Regions from separate parts of the Homo sapiens genome. Here regions 1 and 2 are each linked to region 3. Evidence: fine-mapped expression QTL. A gene starts in region 3. Each other region holds a variant in brackets. All regions are shown on one strand. Distances are between the middles of the regions.

Evidence for each region.
Region 1: its variant is fine-mapped to the expression of FKBP15 in whole blood (INTERVAL, PIP 0.94).
Region 2: its variant is fine-mapped to the expression of FKBP15 in macrophages (Alasoo 2018, PIP 0.95). The same link has a PIP of 0.9 or more in esophagus mucosa.

What each region holds. Positions count from the first base shown.
Region 1 is chr9:113,161,273-113,167,597 of GRCh38, reverse strand. SLC31A2 (solute carrier family 31 member 2) reads right to left here. Exons shown (of 4, transcript NM_001860.3): 3 at 5,900-6,089; 4 at 3,458-4,849. The coding sequence ends at 4,681. It overlaps FKBP15 (FKBP prolyl isomerase family member 15), which reads left to right. Exons shown (of 28, transcript NM_015258.2): 28 at 1,443-6,325. The coding sequence ends at 1,520. Among named protein-coding and RNA genes, the nearest start is that of SLC31A2, 13 kb to the right of the region's middle. The variant CA/A (reference allele first, on the strand shown) is at 3,680.
Region 2 is chr9:113,185,805-113,192,129 of GRCh38, reverse strand. FKBP15 (FKBP prolyl isomerase family member 15) reads left to right here. Exons shown (of 28, transcript NM_015258.2): 12 at 1,552-1,659; 13 at 3,639-3,741; 14 at 4,231-4,337; 15 at 5,767-5,881. Among named protein-coding and RNA genes, the nearest start is that of FKBP15, 32 kb to the left of the region's middle. RefSeq lists an enhancer at 3,396-4,595. The variant T/G (reference allele first, on the strand shown) is at 3,704.
Region 3 is chr9:113,218,665-113,224,989 of GRCh38, reverse strand. It overlaps FKBP15 (FKBP prolyl isomerase family member 15), which reads left to right and starts at 3,713. Exons shown (of 28, transcript NM_015258.2): 1 at 3,713-3,799. The coding sequence starts at 3,747. It overlaps SLC31A1 (solute carrier family 31 member 1), which reads right to left and starts at 3,446. Exons shown (of 5, transcript NM_001859.4): 1 at 3,312-3,446. RefSeq lists enhancers at 2,535-2,724, 3,565-3,674, 3,785-3,914.

The DNA.
Region 1 (6,325 bases), 57 kb after region 3:
CAGAGAGCTGTGATGGATCTATGCTCCAGCTTGCATGTATCGGAGCCCTTCCCTCTTGCCTGTGTTCCTTTGGGGAATGTACCAGTTCCTTCCATGAGTCTTTCTTCTCAAGAGTTAAATTTTCATTTGAGAATCCAGAATAGCAATTCTGCCCTTAAAAAAAGGAAAAAAGGGGGAAAAACCAAATTGAGTATATTCTAAGTGACTGCCCTAAATATAGTTGGAAGCTTTTAATTAGTGAGCATATTATTGGTATTAGTACCAATACTGTCCAGTTAACATGTAGTTCTTGGGTACTCTGAAAACGACTTCACAGATGTTGTCATTTAATCTACTAATCCAATGAGGTAGGTACTTTTATCCCATTTTATATATCAGAGGGCTGAGGCTCAGGAAGATTAAATAATTTAACTAAGCTTATATAGCTAGTAAATGTAGAGCCAGAACTTTAGTCAGGACAAAACAGAAGCTGTGAGCCACACTTGAAAATCCTATACTGTCAGAGTTAGAGATCACGTCATTGATGTCCAGAGAGAAGTACGAGGTCTGGCTAATTGGTAGTGACGTGGGATTAGCCCAGAGACTTGTATACACATCACGCTGCCTTCCCTTTTGCCTGGCCCTGTGAAGATGGATTCTGGTTGGCAGTTGCTCACCAGAGCAGAGAATGCCTTAGTAGAGACTATTCAGTTCGTGCCTGTCTGTAGCATCAATCCCTGCTAGCCGGGTAGGTCCTGTTCCCTTGCCAAGCCAGAGGAGAAAGGCCAGGAGCTCAAGCTGTGAAAAGAGAGGGTCTCTCATGGCCCATCAGTCCCTTTCACCCCCACTACCTTAGCTGGAAGGAGCGAGGGTGGTGCCAGTCAGGCTAGAGGTGTGGGAGGCTGTGGCCCCGTGTTCTTCACCTCTTAGGATTCTCCAGTTGGCCAAGCCTCCAAATTCAACTCTTTCAAATGATGGGATCACACCCAGAGCCAGTCAGGCCACCTTAGGCCACGACGACAGTATTTTTCCATATGTGATTGTCTTCTTCCCAACCTCCCTTCTTCCCACTTCCTCTCGCTCTCTCAGGGCTGCTTTGCTTCTGTTTCTTCCTACTGCTCCAGTGTTTCCTCTTTGACCCTTCTTTCTCCACACAAAATGTGTAAGTTACTGCATGAGAGGAAAATCTGTCAAATCAGTACATGTGCTTCATAAATAAATGATGAGATTAGCCAAACAAAGTTCATCTTTTGTCTCTGTTGAAAGACTGCCTCCCTTCTCTGCCTGCTGGTCTCAGCTTTATCTGGAAGCCTAGGTTTGCTGGCCTCAGAGTTGGCCCTGTCAGTACAACCTCCTTTCTGACCCAGAGCTGGGAACAGAAGTTGGATTGCTTCCACTCACAGGTGGAAAGTCCAGTGGTGCAGGCACAAGTGAGGACTGACTGCTCTTTCCTGTTTTATCAGAGCATGAAGGGACGCCCGCCCCCAACGCCCCTTTTTGGAGATGATGATGATGACGATGACATTGACTGGCTGGGATGAAGACCCAGGAAACTGGTGCAAAGGTTTCTCTGCAACCCTTCCCTAAGCATGATTTTGCACAGCCAACCCTGGGTCTAGGCGAACCACAGGGTGAGGTCAAGGTGAGCATTCTGGGAACAATATTTGGGCTCAGAGGGTGGGTTGGCCACCTTCTGAGCCCCACCCCCGCCAGACCTGGTGAAGAGGATCATAACCCTGTCTTCAAGAACACTGGGATTTCAGCAGCAAGTTGGAAGAAGGACTGGTAGGTTCCCCTCCAAGCCAGTCACCTGTAAGAGTCCTGTCCTCTGCCAGACTTTTTAATCTCTTCATTAACTCTCAGACTGACCTGGGAGCCCTCCTCTACCTGAATCCAGTGCTCAACTGTGCCCCGGCAACAAGACCTGGGCTGAGGTCTCCCTGGTAGAACTAAGGGAGATTACACCATCTAAATCCCAGTGCAGTCAACAGCCTGGCCTATAGTCCTGGGACATGTATCTTCTTCTTTGCCTTAAATCTGATACAAGAGGTCAATGACTTTGAAAATAAAACTAAAATAAATGTCTATAATGAAACTTGACCCAAGCCCTTGGAGAAAAATTGAGTTTGGTTCCAAGGGCTGTCTGTGCTCTTTTGGGAATCTAAGGGTAGGAGTCTTACAGATCTGGGTCAGTTAATGTGCACAAAACGTTGTGGCATATTTACTCCCTTTGATACCTAACCCTGGAACTTTTAGGCTTTCAAAGAAAGTCACCACTGTAGTCCTAGCTCATCCCTGGGGCATGATGGTTCTGTGAGGACCAGTCCAGTCATCCTCTTGCTCCTGCAGGCTTAGTCCTGCAGTCTAGGAAGCCATGCAAAGAAGGTGAGAGGGTCCCTTCTTTCCATTGTTCATGGCACCTGAGGGATTCTTCACTTTGAGAGCAGCTTCCATTCCCTTAGAACTCATGGGACCAGGACTTATGCAGAGAACAGTAGTGAGAAAATACTTGTGGTCATTTTCTTGATTCCAGGATCTTCCAAAGATTATGCAATCAGTCTTTAAAAAAACAGAATAATTAATTTTAATAAAAAATGTTTCTTGATTTTAAATGTTTTAAAAGATAGGACCCAAAATTCCACTTCATCTGGCCTGGCATCATCCTTGCAGGCTTTGGATATGTCTCCCGTGTGCGGACCTGGGAGGCAGTGAGAACTAATTATTTCTTTGTTGCTTAACAAAAGGCGGTGCTGTTTGGCACTTTCACAGACTGGCTTATCTCCAGCAACCACTGCAGAAGACAGTGTTATCACCATTTTATAGAGGAGAAAACTGAGACTTAGAGAGGTAAAGTAATTTGCCCAAAGTTACATATCTAGGAAGCCTCAGCACAAGAATTCAAATCCTGGCCATCTGATTCCAGAGCCTGGGCTCTTGGCCAGCACAGCCTGACTGTCACTGGTTGGGGGAAGGGGCGGTGATGCTTTTAGAAACAGGCTTCTTGAGACACCAGGCAGCTTTCCAGTTCCCTGCAAACATGGGGGAATGCCCTGATCAGTCCTAAAGGTGTGACATAGTCTACTTTCTAGGGCAGTTATTTCTTATTGTAAATTAACTAGTGGCTATTATATTTGCTTCTGCCCGCAGGGAGAGAAGATGCTGAGTAATTGTGCCAACACAGGTGCTTAAAGTCCGTGTGACAGTTACTTTTCTTATAGCATGTACTCAATTAATACTTGTTACATGAATGAAGAATGACTTGACTTGCCTCAGTTGGCATTCTGGGGTGTCTACCTGGGTGCAGCATTTCAGGGCTGGGTTTCCCTGAGCAGAGTTGTCTTTGTAGCAGATGGATGGACTCTGTCCTCAGACAGGCTTATAAAGAGTACTACCAGTTCTATTAGCCCCACTCAGCCCCTGCAGTTGTTACAAGGGTTCATGTGCTTTCTGTTGGAATTAGGAGAACAGAACAGTCATAGACTATTTAAAAATATATATTTACTAAAATGTATTTGTTTGTTTTTAATTCCCAAAGCTTACAACCATCTTTTCATCTAATCTGTGAGGTATTTAGTATACAGCAGTGATTTTCTCTCTTTCCTTTTTTATAAAGTGAAGAGGTTCAACTATCCAGAGAGTCCCATCTAACTCAAAAAATGTAATGGCTTTGGTTGGATTGCATCTTCAGTCAGTACCTGCC[CA/A]TGGCTTAATCAGTATTTTAAGTGAATGAATCATGTTTCCCCACTAGATCATTACGAGTAAGCAGTAAGTAATAAATAGAGAATATTAAGTATTGAACATTATTAGATGCAGCTTTTTGTTCTGCATAGAAGAAAGATGAGGATAAAGGAGGGCATTGAGGCCACGAAGAGCTTCCCAGACACCCACGGCCATCAGATCATCTTCTTCCTGCAGGCAGTGCCTTCTGGTGGAAGGAGCTCAGTCTATCAGAGAATAAACCAGGAGCCTGAAAGCAGTCCTGTGTCTCTGCCTTTAATCAGCTGTCACTTATTCTCTCCCCAAGAAAGGGAAATAGGTCTCAGCAGTTTCTGCCATCCATCATGAATCAATGAAATCATTTCATTAAAAATTTTTTTGTATGAATGTGCAAAATTGCCAACTAGGAGTTCAATGGGAAAAATAAAAAAAACTTAGTTTGTCAACATGATCCATAGACGAGATGATCTTCATGTGTTCCAAAGGCAGAAAGGTGAGAAAAAGGATCTAGCTTGGTCTCTGTCCCTCAAAGACAGAAGAGGTCAGGAAGTCCAATGGGCGATGCTCCTGTAGATAAGGCACAAAGCAGGAGAGCTGAGGGTGTCCAGGTTCCATGCCCTGCATCACCAAGAACCCTTCTCCCTGGCTTGAAATCTTTGGAAATTCCTGGTTTGAGTCACAGAGAAGCATTGTCATGGGCTCAGTAACCCTGCCACCCCTGTTATCTCCATTCTCCCTTTGGTCACAGCAGCTGTCTTAAGACACAAGACCATGCCTGGGCCCTACGTAGGCTGGCTGAGAAGGAAGGTTGCTGCAATGGCTTCCGAACTCCAGGGAGCAAGTGCTGGCTTCAGCTCAAAGTTTCCAGGGGCTGGGAATAAGGTGGAGGAATAGCCATCAGAAGAAAGGGCAGTTGGAAGTATAGTGTCTGGAAGAGGGGGCTCCATGTCCCTCCAGCCTCAGTGCCTGCACGTTCCTCACCAGCTAAGCTGTGCTGAGAAGTGGGTAAGCTAGGTAGTAGCCCACAGCAGAGCCCAAGACCACACCAAGGAAAATCCAGGTGTTGTAGGACATTACGGCCAGCATGATGAAGTAGCCGATGACCACCTGGATGACATGGATTAGAGACTGGCCAAAGTGACACAAATACCACCTAGATAAAAAGGAGAAGCAAGTTAATCCTGGTAATGAGCTGGTAATGAGGAAGCTGGGAGTAGATATCAGGGAGTAGAAAGCTGTTGAGTTACGTGACCCGATTGATTTATAACTTGTATGCTTAACCCAGGAGTGATTTCTTTCTGCCCCTCCCACCCCCGCCCCCAGAAAAAACTCGAGATTTATTTTTAAAGAGACATATCTTCACTACATTTGGTTTCAAGCTTCCTGGCATCCTAGGCAAAGGGGAAAATGAGGGTATCTATAATCTGTCTTTCTGATAAGGAATAAGAGAAAATCATCAGTAAGGCATATTTCCCCCCTGAATCTACTTCGGGAGGCAGTATGACAATGGAAAGAAAAAGCATGGTCTTAGGTGACATTATCAGTTCCTAGACCTGCCACTAACTAAAAGTGGCCTAGACAAATGTCTTAACCTCTCTGAACGTAAGATTCCTTATCAGTAAAACAGGAATGAGAATACTTCCCTTGCAGTGCAGTTGTGAAGATCTGAGACACCCATGTAGGGTGGCTAGTGATGGAGCGGGCAGGCTTATTAAGCACAGGTGAGGCTGGGGCTGGACAGAGGGCAGAACAGGGACCCTAAATGGTTGCCTGATTCGAGTGGGAAGGGAGGAGAGGAGAGCTTGTCATCCTCCTCCCACCAAGTGGGATACATTGCTTCAGGACAGCTGCAGATCCCCTCCTGGATATGGGAGCCTAGTGACCCATGGAACTGGTGAGATTTGGGGGAGGGTGGGTGGCCACCTCATTTGCTAGATAGGGGCCTGCACCTGAAGATCACTGTTCCCTAAAGAAAGCCTTCTGAGCCTCTCAAGTGGCTGGCTGTTCACAGAGTGCTTTGGCCTGGGCATCAGGAGACATGAGCTCTAGTTCACTTGGCTATGTGTAGCCACTTTGGCAAGTCCTGGTCCTTCCCTGGGCCTCGCTGTCCTCTCTGTGAAGTGGGGCTAATGCTGTCTGGGCCAGCCTGTCTCTCAGGGTGAATGTGAGGCTTCTGCCCCTTTCCCATACCCACTGCCTGTACCTGTGGTGGGTTCTGCCAACAGGGAATGAATCTGAGCCTGCAGAGTCCCCGTCTGTCTCTGCGATGGTCTGCTGGCTGATGGAGGTTGGCAGGTTCACCAGTACCTGGTTGAGCAGCTTGGCTTTGCCAACCTTGATGCCTTCATACAGTACAGCCAGAAGCAGGAGCACCAACACCGAAAGGGCCATGCCTGTCAAAGGAGGCAGAGTTGTGGAGACCTGGCCAGGCCAGCACTGTTTCCCTTCCAGCACCTCCACCTGTTCATGGAATCCACTCCATCCACCTCTATCCTGCACCTTCTTCCCCACCCTTGCTGAGTTCCGAACTTCTTCACTGTCTTCACCAGACTTTTCTTAGCTGGAGTGTGGCTTTGAGATCAGGAAGAGAAGCCACCTGAAAAATCCAGGGGCTGAGGGTGAAGAAGCC
Region 2 (6,325 bases), 33 kb after region 3:
CTGTAGTCATAACAACTCGTTACCTATTTCTAAGGCTATAGTAACTTCTAGCAGACTAATGGCCTCCAACTATTTTTCTTCTCTTTTTTTTTTTAAACAAATTTGTTTTTTTTAATGGAGGCAAAATTCACGTTACATGAAATTAACCACCTTTCTTTTTCTTTTTCTTTTCCATTTTAGTTTTTATCTTTTGTTTTGAATAGGTAATTACATTTATATGGCACAGTTATCAAAACAATATAACAAGATCTACATTGTGAGGACTCACTCCTATTCCTGTCCTTATCTACCCTATTCCATCTCACACCCCTTAGGTAACTGCTTTTATTAGTTTCTTATATATTCTTTCAGTGTTTCTTTATGCAGGTGCACACAAGTAGAAATGTATTTTTTATTCCTCCCTCCTTTCACACACACAAAGTAGCATACTCTGTATGTAATGCACCTTGCCTTTTCCATATAACTATATATATATAATTTATATTATATATATATATAATGCAGAATCTTTTCATGTTGGTGTATAGAGAGCTTCCTCATTTTAATCTGCATATCACAATATTCCATTGTGTGCATAAGGTCTATATAACTAGTCCTTTCCTGATGTATCCAACTTTTTTTGGATACATCATCAGTTACGAAAAAATAAGCACACACTCCCAGTATAGGTTTATTGACAAATTATGTACATAAAGTACCACCAATCCCTGTAAGCAAACTCAGTGTCTTACACTGATAGCTTAAAAATAATAAAAATGCAGCCTGGGCAACATGGCGAAGCCCTTTCTCGACCAAAAATACAAAAAATTAGCGCCTGTGGTCCCAGCTACTTGGGAGGCTGGGGTGGGAAGACGTCTTAAATCTGGGAAATGGAAGTTGCAGTGAGCCGAGATCACGCCACTGCACTCCAACCTGGGTGATAGAGAACCCATCTCAAAAAAAAAAAAGTAATAATAATAAAAATGGAGGTTATGATCATTTCCTTCTATACCCAATAGCTCATATTGTGCACCTTCAGGTGTACTTACTTGCCATTCTGAAATTTTGGATCAGTTAATGGAAGCTTCTAGCACAGGGTCTAATGGGTAGTTAATGCCAAGTCATAGTTAAGTGAACCTGAAGTTAAAACAAAGAGCTCCTGTTTCCTTTTCTCCACAGATCTCTTCTGAATTATCTACCGAATTGCTTCAGGGTTTTGAGTGAGGGTACTGTCACCTAAAATGCCTCCCTTTCTTAACATCTCACTTTAATTTTTCATCTGTAAAATGAGACTAATTATGCCTGCTGGGGAGACTTGATTGAAATGAGGCAATGTATGTGAAACCACTTTGTCCATTCCAAAGATACAGGGAATTATTTTTACTGCTATTAATTGTGATCCATGTATACTTCTATGCAAGAAATCTTTCTCATTTTCTAGAGGAAATGTTTTTAAATAGATATGGTAGGGGGATTTGTTGAAGGATTTGATACAAGAGCCAAAGGGATAGAGCTGCCTGAAGGTGATGAGCTTTAATCACAGTGATTTTTGTGACTTTCCTCTCTTTTTAGAGTCCCGATGCAGTCAAAGCCAAGTTGATCTCTCGGATGGCTAAAATGGGCCAGCCCATGCTGCCCATCCTTCCACCACAGCTGGATTCCAATGATTCAGAAATCGAAGTATGTCCCCCTGGCTGTATTAGAATGAATAGTACAGATGTCGCCATCATCTTTCTTTTCATTTGGTTGGAGTGATTGTTTTTTCTCTAAGGCAGAATCATTATTTAGAGAGCTAATATGCAAAATGATACAGATTGGTATTGGTACATGTGTTTCTACTGTGATTAGTACTTCCCTGAGAGATGGAAGCAATTTTGTAGATCTTTTACAAGAACTGGGCAGTTTTCAGTAGTTAATTTAGCCTTCTTTACTAGAATCTCTGTTGTTACTAAAGATCACTCTCTGGGCAGCATGATGCCCAATCCATAGCAGGTGTTCAATTCATATTTATTGAGCGAATGTTTAGATTCTTTTGGGAAATGTTGGTCTTCTCGCTGATGTTGCCTATCACTAAAGCTCCAACTAGTATGTCTTTTGACTTTGTATGTGGTATTCTTGTGTTTGTTTTCTATTTAGAAGTTCAATAATTTTATTGAATTCAAGTCTGTCAATTTTCTCCCCTTGTTATTTGCTTTTGACATTATGCTTAGAAAGCCTCTCCACTTTCAGATTATAAATATCACATGTATTTTTAAAGATATTGATCAATATTTTATAATTAGATCTAAATTTTTAATCCATTTGGAATTTGGTGTATGCTATAAAGTAACTTAATTTTAACTTAATTCTTCTCTAGTGGTTAGTTCTTTATTGAATATAATCGTCCTTTCTCAATTGAAGTGAAATATATAACTTAGACTGATTTTTAGTATTCTTTTACTTTGATAGAAAACAAGGAAAGGGCGATGGTCTTGAAAAAATTTTTTCTGGAATATACTTTATATTTTACATTTTTGTTTTATTTCTTGGAAAAGCTCTATGTAGATTTAACATCTTAAAGGAAGATAGGATTTCTGAGGCCTATTGTTATAGGATTATTTTTTTCTGGTCTGGAAATGCAGTGTAAATAAGAATATTTTTATTAAAAATTTTATGTGCTACTTATTCATTTTAGAATAATTTAAAATTATAGAAAAGAAACATATTGAACAAAAAGGGCATTCATCTTTATATATTGCTTTGTAACCTGATTTTTAAACCTAATGTTGTATCATAAACATTTACATTAACATAAATGATTTAAGTAAATAAAGTGGTTTAAAGGAAACCCAGTGTTCCATTATATCATTTTATTATAATTCCTTTCACTCTGTTATTAGACATTTAGGTTGGTTAAGAGCTGTAGAAATCTAAAACTGGGATGTTTTTCTAGAAGAGAATATAAGGGGACAAGGTGAAGTTCTAAAGTAAAAGAATGTCTGAAACTTTGGTCTTTGAACTATAGCATAGCAGATTACAGTCACTGTATATTGTGCCTCAAGATTTTCTGTTTCTTATATGAAGCAGGAGGTAGAATAACTTTGTTTAGAGTTATAGCTTTGATTTTATGAAAAGCTTTGGTTTTATGAAAATAAAGAATGTTGGAAAAACATCCTAAAACTATATTATCCAAAAACAGCATGTTAATCAGGTGCAGTGAATCCTACGTTATCTGATTTTCATTGAGTACCTTGAGGACTATGGGGATGATTTGTAAGAAGCGAAGAGGCTGGATTATTTCTTGCAAAAGACCACTTTTTTTGTGGGAATAGATTAGATTTGTCTTAAGGCAGTTACTGGCTTGGAAAATGATACATTCTGAAGAGTGGTTAGTTTAGCTGCTTCAGACAATAGAACATCAACCTCTGAGAATATTTGTGGAAATTAACTATATTTACTTATTCAATATGATTATAGGGAGAAGGACTCTTACTTTATTGCATAGCAGAGTGCTTTTTCTCCACAACCCACACCCTCAACTCTTGGCCTTCCGCTTACCTTTCCTTCCTCTTCTTTGCCTAGAAATCCTGTGTTGGAAGCAGGTTTAGGGCAGACAGTCAGCCTCAGTCTTCAATGAGGGACCCCGTACAGAGTAACCCAAACGCTTGTTCCTGTTTCAGGATGTGAACACTCTGCAAGGAGGTGGGCAGCCTGTGGTGACTCCGTCCGTCCAGCCCTCTCTTCA[T/G]CCGGCCCATCCAGCGTTACCACAGATGACCTCACAGGGTAAGGAACCTCTCTGAGGCTCTGTGGCCTTGAACTGGGTCAGCATGAAAATTATCGTCACTGTTCCTTAAACTGTTAGGCTGCATTGTTTCAGTACTGAGGACTAAAGTGTAAATGTAAGAGTGTGACGCTTGTCAGTTTGTCCCTGGGTAAGGCATTTTCATACCCAGAGATGGACCTGGCTGCTGGTTGTGACTTCTGCTGTGTTGCACTGTCAGTTTTGGAAATCTGCACTCAGCTATTGAGACATCTCCCTGGGTGTGTTCTGCACTTCCTGTCGGGTGGGATCCTAGGGCTGAGTCAGAAGCACATGAGAGCACCCAGTTTCCTTCCACTGGCTCATTCCTGAGATTGCAGTAGAGCTGAGTGTAGGGAGACTAGGCAAGGAAAATAGTTGAGTCTGAAGCATGATAGTATGTAAGGTGCTAGTCTAGACTCACACCAAGAAGCAAGGGTGGATAACAGTGAAAATGTCTCCCTTTATCTTAGCACCTCAGCCATCTGTTACTGGGCTCCAGGCACCTTCTGCTGCCTTAATGCAAGTGTCATCTCTCGATTCCCACTCAGCTGTATCTGGAAATGCCCAATCCTTTCAGGTAACATTTTATAACCGTATTAATTATATCCTATAATTTGCTGTGGTTCTAGTCAGTCTCTTTTCTTCTTCCTGTACATTTCATACAGTAGCAGTTCCCCAAAGTCAGAGTTTGTAATTTTTTTCCCTTCCTTGGTTACCACTTTCTCATCTCTAAACCAGGCAAAGGATAACCTACGTTCCAGTGTCATAAAGATTAAATGCAAGAACAAGTAGAGCCCCTAGTACAACGTAGTAAAGATGCAATCAATGTTTGTTTCCTTTTCTTTTCACACATATCCAGTTGAAGCGTGTATATTCGCGTTCTTCTGTATTCTTTTCTACTAAAAGTTGGCAGGCTAACATTCTGCAGTATATTCAGCAGAATGGTATGGTTTAAAAGTGGAACCATGTGGAAAATGTAGCTTGACTCTGCTATCTAGTAAACTTTTCTTAAAGAAGGCCTTTTTCCTGTTATCACAGAAAACAATGGCAGCAGCCTGTTTGCCAGGGGTAGCAGACCCTTTCTTCTGCCTCAACACACTTGGTGGATAAGGCATACTGTCACTGGGAACAGCTGCTCACTCCTTGTGATGCTTAATGGAGGTGTGGGAATGATGGTGGATAGGCTATGCCTCATTAACATGGGGAGTCTCGAAACTGGAAAAAGTCCCACTGTTGCCCTCTTTCTCCCCATCCCTCCTCTCCTCCATGGAGAATTACTATGCTGTAGACTAAGAATTTTTTTTAAGTGGATGCGTAGTTATATCTATCCCTGGAAATGAGCTAGACTTCCTTATTTCAAGGAAGAATTACCATCCTCATTAAAATAAAAGCTGCTGTTTATTAAGCGCTTACTATCTGTCAGGCCTGTAACTTACTAGCTTTTCAGAACTTTACCTATCTCACTTCATTTAGTCCACAGAACAGCCCTATGAAGTGATATTATTATCTTCCTCTTACAGTTGAGGTGACCGAGACTCAAAGGAACATGAGAGCTCTTGGTCTCGTGGATTAGCTTCAGAATCTAGCAGGGGAGAGGCATCCTTGGAAATTGGCAGATTTGGTTTGGAATCTCAGTGAGCACTTCTTCTTTAAACTCAATGGAAGCTAAGCAGAGTTTATTAATCTAAAAACTTCTTAGACAATAGGCCTGATAATGGGGAATGAATCCCTGCTTAATTATCTCACCAGATGACTGGGTAGTGACCTAAGATACACTTTCTTCAGTTTCTGGGTAGGATTTTAGTGACTGGTTTCCCCTGGGATACATAGATAACTCTCCTGCTGCAGTCCTTACCAACTGCCAAACCCAGATCTCACCCATCTCTAGCTTCAGTAAGTTTGAGTCTCCTCCCAGCTCATCCACTTTATTCCACCAAAGAAAAATGTGAACAAAAAAGAAAGACATGAATGTTTTATCAACCAGTGGTAACTCGTCAGTTTCTCAGCCCTATGCAGGTATGCAAGCCTACGCTTATCCCCAGGCATCTGCCGTCACCTCCCAGCTGCAGCCCGTTCGGCCTTTGTACCCAGCACCGCTCTCTCAGCCTCCCCATTTCCAAGGTAGGGAGTAATTCCCTCAGTTTCTCATCTTCCGCTCTTGCTGTGCTTTCCCTCTTCTTGCTCCTCCTTCATTTTCACACCAACAGCTCTCTACTCATTGTTTCTTCTCTTTTTTAACAGCTTTGTTGAGATATAATATGTATTCCACACATTCATTCATTTTAAATGTGCAATTCAAAAGTGTTTTAGTAAATTTGCAGAGTTGTGCATTCATCACTACAATCCTATTTTAGAACATTTCCGTCATCCCCCAATGTTTCCTTGTGTCCACATTCTGTGTTTTTTTCCTTGGATTTTCTCCCCTGGCCCTTTTAATTCCTCTGTTAGAGTAGCTAGAGTTTAGAGAAAATAGTAAAAGAGCAAAACATTGGAGGAAATTGGGAGAAAGTTGAATACTATAGGTGTTTAGTATCTCTAATGAAAGCTACTCTGTTAACATTTTTA
Region 3 (6,325 bases):
CCAGGCACTGTTCTAAATGCTTTACATGAATTAACTCCTATAATATTCACAAGAAACCTAGAAATGGATACTACCATTATGCCTGTTTTACAAAGGCAAAAACTGAGTAACTTGTCTATGGCCTATACAACTAATAAGTGGCAAAGCAATTTGGCTCCAGAGCTCAAGTACTTAACTACTGTACTACATAGACTCTCTAGTAGTTATTTCTAAAACACCACACTGAATGCTTTCGAAAGACCAGATAAAAGTGAGCACACAAGGCCGGGTGCGTTGGCCCACGCCTCTAATCCTAGCACTTTGGGAGGCCAAGGCGGGTGGATCACCTGAGGTCGGGAGTTCCAGACCAGCCTGACCAACATGGAGAAACCCCGTCTCTACTAAAAATACAAAATTAGCCGGGCATGGTGGCACATGCCTGTAATCCCAGCTACTCGGGAGGGTGAGGCTGGAGAATCGCTTGAACCCGGGAGGTGGAGGTTGTGGTGAGCCGAGATTGTGCCATTGCATTCAAGCCTGGGCAACAAGAGCGAAACTCTGTCTCAAAAAAAAAAAAAAAAGTGAGCATACAGATAACACATAAACTTGCTGTTAGGTGTGGGAGACAACAGAAAAGTCTGGAAGGACATTTCATAAACACCTAGAAAGATTCTGCAGTGAGACTGCTTTGCAAGTGACTTTAAGTATTCATTCCATGTTAAAAATACCATAGATAACGTAGGCCAGGGGCTAGCAAGCTCTTTCTATAAAGGGCCAAAAGTAAACATTTTAGATGTTGCAGGCCATGTGGTTTCTGTTGCAATCACAAATATTCAATTCTGCCTTGGAGGGTAAGAGGAGTCATAGACAATACATAAACAAATGAGAAAGGCTGTGTTCTAATAAAGCTTTACTTATAAAAACAGGCAACAGGGTCCTACACTCCAAGAAAAGGCTGAGGCCTTATGTTAAAAGAATGGCAAAAGAATGTTTATGTGTTCGTTAAAATGTTATGCATATAACTATTATCTGTATGATTCCCTGCTTTAACTTACTTCTTCAGTTAACCAACTAATGGCCCTAAGTCTGCTTTCAGTGACTGAGTGAACGGAATGTTATAGATCCCCTAGAACCTGCATTTAATTCATATTCCTATCATTATGCCTGATATAACTTGGTTATAACTTTAAACTACTAATTTTAAAATGCATGCATCATTACAGATTAGTATGGGTATACTCGTATATAAAGACTGTCATCTCTGTTGCAAAATTGCTGATAATTTGAAAATAATTATTAAAATTGCTGCTTCCCTGAGGGAGTAAGGGGAGTGGAGGGTGGAGAAAAAAAATTGCTGCTTCCTGGCCAATCTTCTGGGGGTTGACAATATATTTTATGAGTATTCTAAAAGTTGTATACTTAAGCAAAACAAATAAACAAAAATGCTTACTTTAAACTTGAGATCAAGGTTGTGCCTTACTTACCTTTGTATCCCCAGCAGTTACTCAGTAGAAGTCCAGGTCTAATCCACTCATTTTACAGTGCTTAGGGAGCCTGGCCCAAACTCAGAGTGAGTTATAAGGGCTGGGACAGGAATTCAGATTTCCTGATTCCTAGTCCAGTATTACCAATCTGAAGATACACGAATTTAGGAAGACAGTGGCTTTCTTTTTTTTTTTTTTTAGGTGCACCCAGTCCTGCAGTTCAAAGCCTGGCAAGACTCACCATCATCTTCCTCCTCCTCATACTGCTAATGAGAATCAGCAGCTGTGTTTCTACAGTGATAATCTGCGTATGCATGTTCGTGATGTTCCAATCACCAAAAAGGCTATTGATTTTAGGATTCCTGAGTACCTACAAAAGCTACTTAAACATCCAGGATAAAATCAGCTCCACCCAAGAATACAAGATAAGAGTTCAAATATTCCCTTGGCCATTTTTTTTTTTTAAAGAAAAGGCTGGAAGGACATGTCATAAACACCTAGAAAGATTCTGCAGTGAGACTGCTTTGCAAGTGACTTTAAGTATTCATTCCATGTTAAAAATACCATAGATAATGTAAGCCAGGGGCTAGCAAGCTCTTTCTGTTAAACATTTAGATGTTTCAGTGCTGCAATCACAGTGACCGGTGTTGGGGAGAGGGATTAGAAAGTGCCATGGTACTTAATCCAGTTACTCCCCCAACACCTCCAAGAGGTAGCCAAGTTCACACACTAAACAGAGCTACTGCAACAGTTCTAGTGCTAGTCCTTAGATTCTAGTTCCAGTTCCGGTTCTAGTGCTTAGATTCCAGTTGCATCATTCCAACTGTGAGCCTTCGCTGCTTTAACATCTTTGCCAGGAGGTGCAAAGTTCTCTGGGAGGGAGCTACCAATCATTTCATTTCAATTTCATACTGACAGATTGAAACATTCACGTAAGGGACACCTGTAGTACCAACCTGACTGTGAGGGGAAGCCCAAGAACTCCAGTGAGTCTGTGGACGCTACGCTGGGACACTATCTCCTTAGCCACACCTTGTCTAAGCCAGGACTACCCCAGGATTGTTTCGAGAATGATACCAGGTTAACCAAAGAAATACTTATGTAAGATACAGATAGGGTGGAAACTGGAGGCAGAGGAGTCCGCCACAATTGATGTTGATTTAGGGCTGTCGCAGGAAGACCCAGGGAAACCCACGCCAAAGTTGGGGTGGGGATGTGTCTGCCTCCAAAGTATCCTCCTTTCCATCACCCACCGCCAGAATATCTTAGCTCTTCTGCACCTCATCCGCGTAGAATACAGGTGGACTCTAGAAAGGGGACTTTCCTCGAGGTGTATGCTACAGTCTTTCAATAGTCACTCTGTAAGGGCACACAGTGCTTAAGGGCTGATAAGGTTCTTGTTCACCCACTAGCTCACTATGTCCTGAATCAAAGGACGAGGAATCCAGTCTCAGTCTGCCCTTTACTCTTTGTGACCTCGGACTAGTCACCCGGGTGCTTAGTTCCTTCGTCTCCCTATCTGTAAATTCTGAGATTACGAGGAGGCCGGGATTGAAATCCATGGCCTCTGAGCTCTAAAATCTTCTGGACCAGCAGGCACATGGAAGAACTGGACAAATGGCCGGTTGCATACACGGGGAAACTGAGGCACCGAGCACCCCGGCCCAAGGTCACTCTGGCTATGCCACTGCAGGGGCCGGGCCGAAGCCCCAGTCTTTAACCCTCCAGTCCCGAGCTCTTTCTCCTTCCGCGGAGCTGAGGAAAGCGGCGAGGAAGGTCCTTGTCCCGCTGGGAAAAGGACGGTACCCATGCACAGGGGTGCGAAAGAGGGGCCGAGAGAAGCCTTACCTTTCCAGGTCAAGTCCAGCCACTAGCACCTCTCTCTCCGAATCTTAACCCGTCACCCCCTCACGACTCTTCGAACGGCCCCTCCACTTCTACCCGGCTCGACGTGTCCACCACCGCCACCGAGGCCGAGGATTTCCCGCCCCCTCCCGCCCCCTAGCATTACCGACCAATCCCTGCAAGGGGCTGTGAAGCTCCGCCCCGCTGCGGGCTGGAGAGGCCTGACGTCACTCGGCGCTCGTGCCCGCGCGAGCCTCTCATTTGCCTTTGCCCCACCTTCTCCAGAGCCCAGTCTACTTTCGGTCCAGAGACCGTGCTGGAGTTCGCCCTGCCGGAAAGCAGCACGCCGCCGCGGCATTTTACGACGTCGGCGGTGACAGGCCCTGGGACTCTGGGAATACCCAGCTTCCTCCCCGCAACCCGGTGAAAGCCAACGCAATGTTCGGTGCGGGGGACGAGGACGACACCGATTTCCTCTCGCCGAGCGGCGGGTGAGTGACTGAGAAGTATGCGCTGGAGGGCGTGGCTGAGAGATACCGGCGGATTGTTGGAGGGGGGTCGATCTCTTCTCAGGCCTTTTCCCAACTTCCGGGGGGAGACCCTTGCCACATTCCGGTGCTCTACACCTCTCAGAATCTGGGCAGAACTTGCAACTGTGCTGACCCTGCCGATCTGAGGTTCGGGACCCGGCATCTCTCTTGGCGGGAAGATAGCCCTGGGTTTGCCTTTTGCATTCTGGGTCACAATTTCTCCGGTGAAATGGGAATGATTGCTGATGAGACTTCCTGCCTCAGAATTTTTATAGGAGTCAGCTGGGGCTGATGTGAGACTTCTTTTCTCCATGGAGAAGGCGAAGACACTTTAGAACCAGGCCTTGGTGGGTCAGCTCTAGCATTCTTCAAGGCCCAGCTCGGATGTCACGTTTTGGATGCTTTTCCTTCTGCAACCTCAGGCAGAATGAATTGCTTTCTCTTCCTTATTCCTGCAGCTAGGTGTGTTTGCCTCTATTCTTATACCCCGCACCTATTAGATTATGAGTCCTCACCGGACAGGGACTGCTTATGGTGTTCATTTCTGTCTAGCATGCAGCATGGTACCTAGCACATAGTGAGTGCTCAGGAAGTGGCTGTTGAATGAATAATAGCTGCGAAATTGCACTTTGTAAAGCTTAAAGCTTAAAACCAACGTAACAGACTTCTGTCATTCTCCAGTTTCCCCAAGCATTATATTAATATATACCAGCCTGGAATAGAAATCTTTAAAGAGAGGAAGGGTTTTGTCTCTTTTAGTAGTCAGTTTAGCCTTTTCCATTGTGTTGTGCCAGTGGACAGCTTGACTTCCTCCAAACTTGTGAGCTACCAAGCTCTGATCATTGCAGAGCTTTTCTTTGAACATATGCTTAACAAATTTTGTGCGTGCTGAAGAATGTACTGGAAAAATGACAAATGCACCACATATGCCCCTTATTCTGCTAAATGCTAAGAGGTTACAAAAATGATTAAACTGCTGTGCCTGCCCTTAAGTTGCTTCCAGATCTGTTGGGCCATGTGGTTTCTATTGCAACCACAAATACTCAGTTCTGCCTTGTAGGGTGAGAGTAGTCATAGACAATACATAAACAAATGAGTTAATAGATGAATGACCATAAAATGACACTGGCCTTCTTTTGTCCTTAAGTAGGAATTTTTGATTTACACTGACTAGCTCTATATTACCTACCTTTTAGTCTTTTTCACTCTCACCACTCTGTTCCCTTCCTACCCCGTCTTTAGATGGCCTGCATTCACTTAGTTCCACTTTGAGTTCTTTCCGTTTCTCAGTTATTTTACAGTTAAGCTGTGCTTTTGTTCCTTTTTTCCCTATTCCACTTTAAATTCGCATTCTTCACTATGTGAAAGTATTTGGGAGAAGTCTGTAATGTTAGGGCTCCCAATTTTCATGCAACAATCAGTCCAAGCTGACTGAAAATTATGGGATAGGTAATGACAGCCATGTGCTCTTTTCCAGATTCCTGGCCAGAGATAAATTCTTGGTGGCTCAACTATTCTTTTTTCCTGAGCAGGCTTCTCAAGGATCTGAGACACTTGAATTCTAGGCATGTGACTGTGCTCCTAGACATAGACAACAGCTAATTTGATGGTAAAAGACATACTGAGGAAAGTTATAGTTTATTTTTGTTCCCCACAGTTATCAGGAAAACCAAATCAAATTTAACACTGAGAATACAGAAAGTTTCACCACAATTCTCTGATTTAGCTATTCCTTTTTTGGTTTTCTCTAAGGAAGTAGAACATATGACAGTGAATACTGCAGCTACTTTTCACTTCCTCTTTTATAGCCATATATTACTGTAAGTATACTTGCTTAAGTTCCAAGTCTCTTGATTTAAACACATGATTTGCTTGATTTCATGAAGGATATTCAAGCCTAATAGAAGTAGGAGTATCTGATAATCTGCCTTCTGAGTTTCTAGGCCTCTTAGAGTTTACTATTAATCTAGAAGTAGTAATCAGGAGCCTTGTTTTTGTTTGTTAGTTTGTTTTAGCCCATTCCTCACCGTTGTGGGAAGTAATAGTAATGAACTAATAGTACTTGGCTTCAGCTAATCCAGATAGGAATAAGGCACAGTTTCTGCCCCTAAGAAACTTTTATTTTAGTAGTAGAATAAAATCAATCCAGGAATAATAATCACAAAGCATTTTTAAGGGGCCAATTATGTATATATTTGTTTTAGATTATAAAGGTATGTGTAGGCAGATCCGATTAGCATAGTAATGATAAATCACCAGTCTAAAGATGGTAGAAAGATAAATTAACCGATCATCAGAAAGCATTTTGAGTTCTGTAAAAGATAGGAAAAAGCCTAGATTCAAATGTTGATTCTATCCCCAGTTAGGAATGTGACTTTGGACAGATTATCTTCCATCCTTGTCCCTCCATACCCCAACCTATTCAATAATGAGGTTTGACCTAGATAAACTTTGAGACCTTTGCCAGTTCTGTAGTTTTAATGTTAA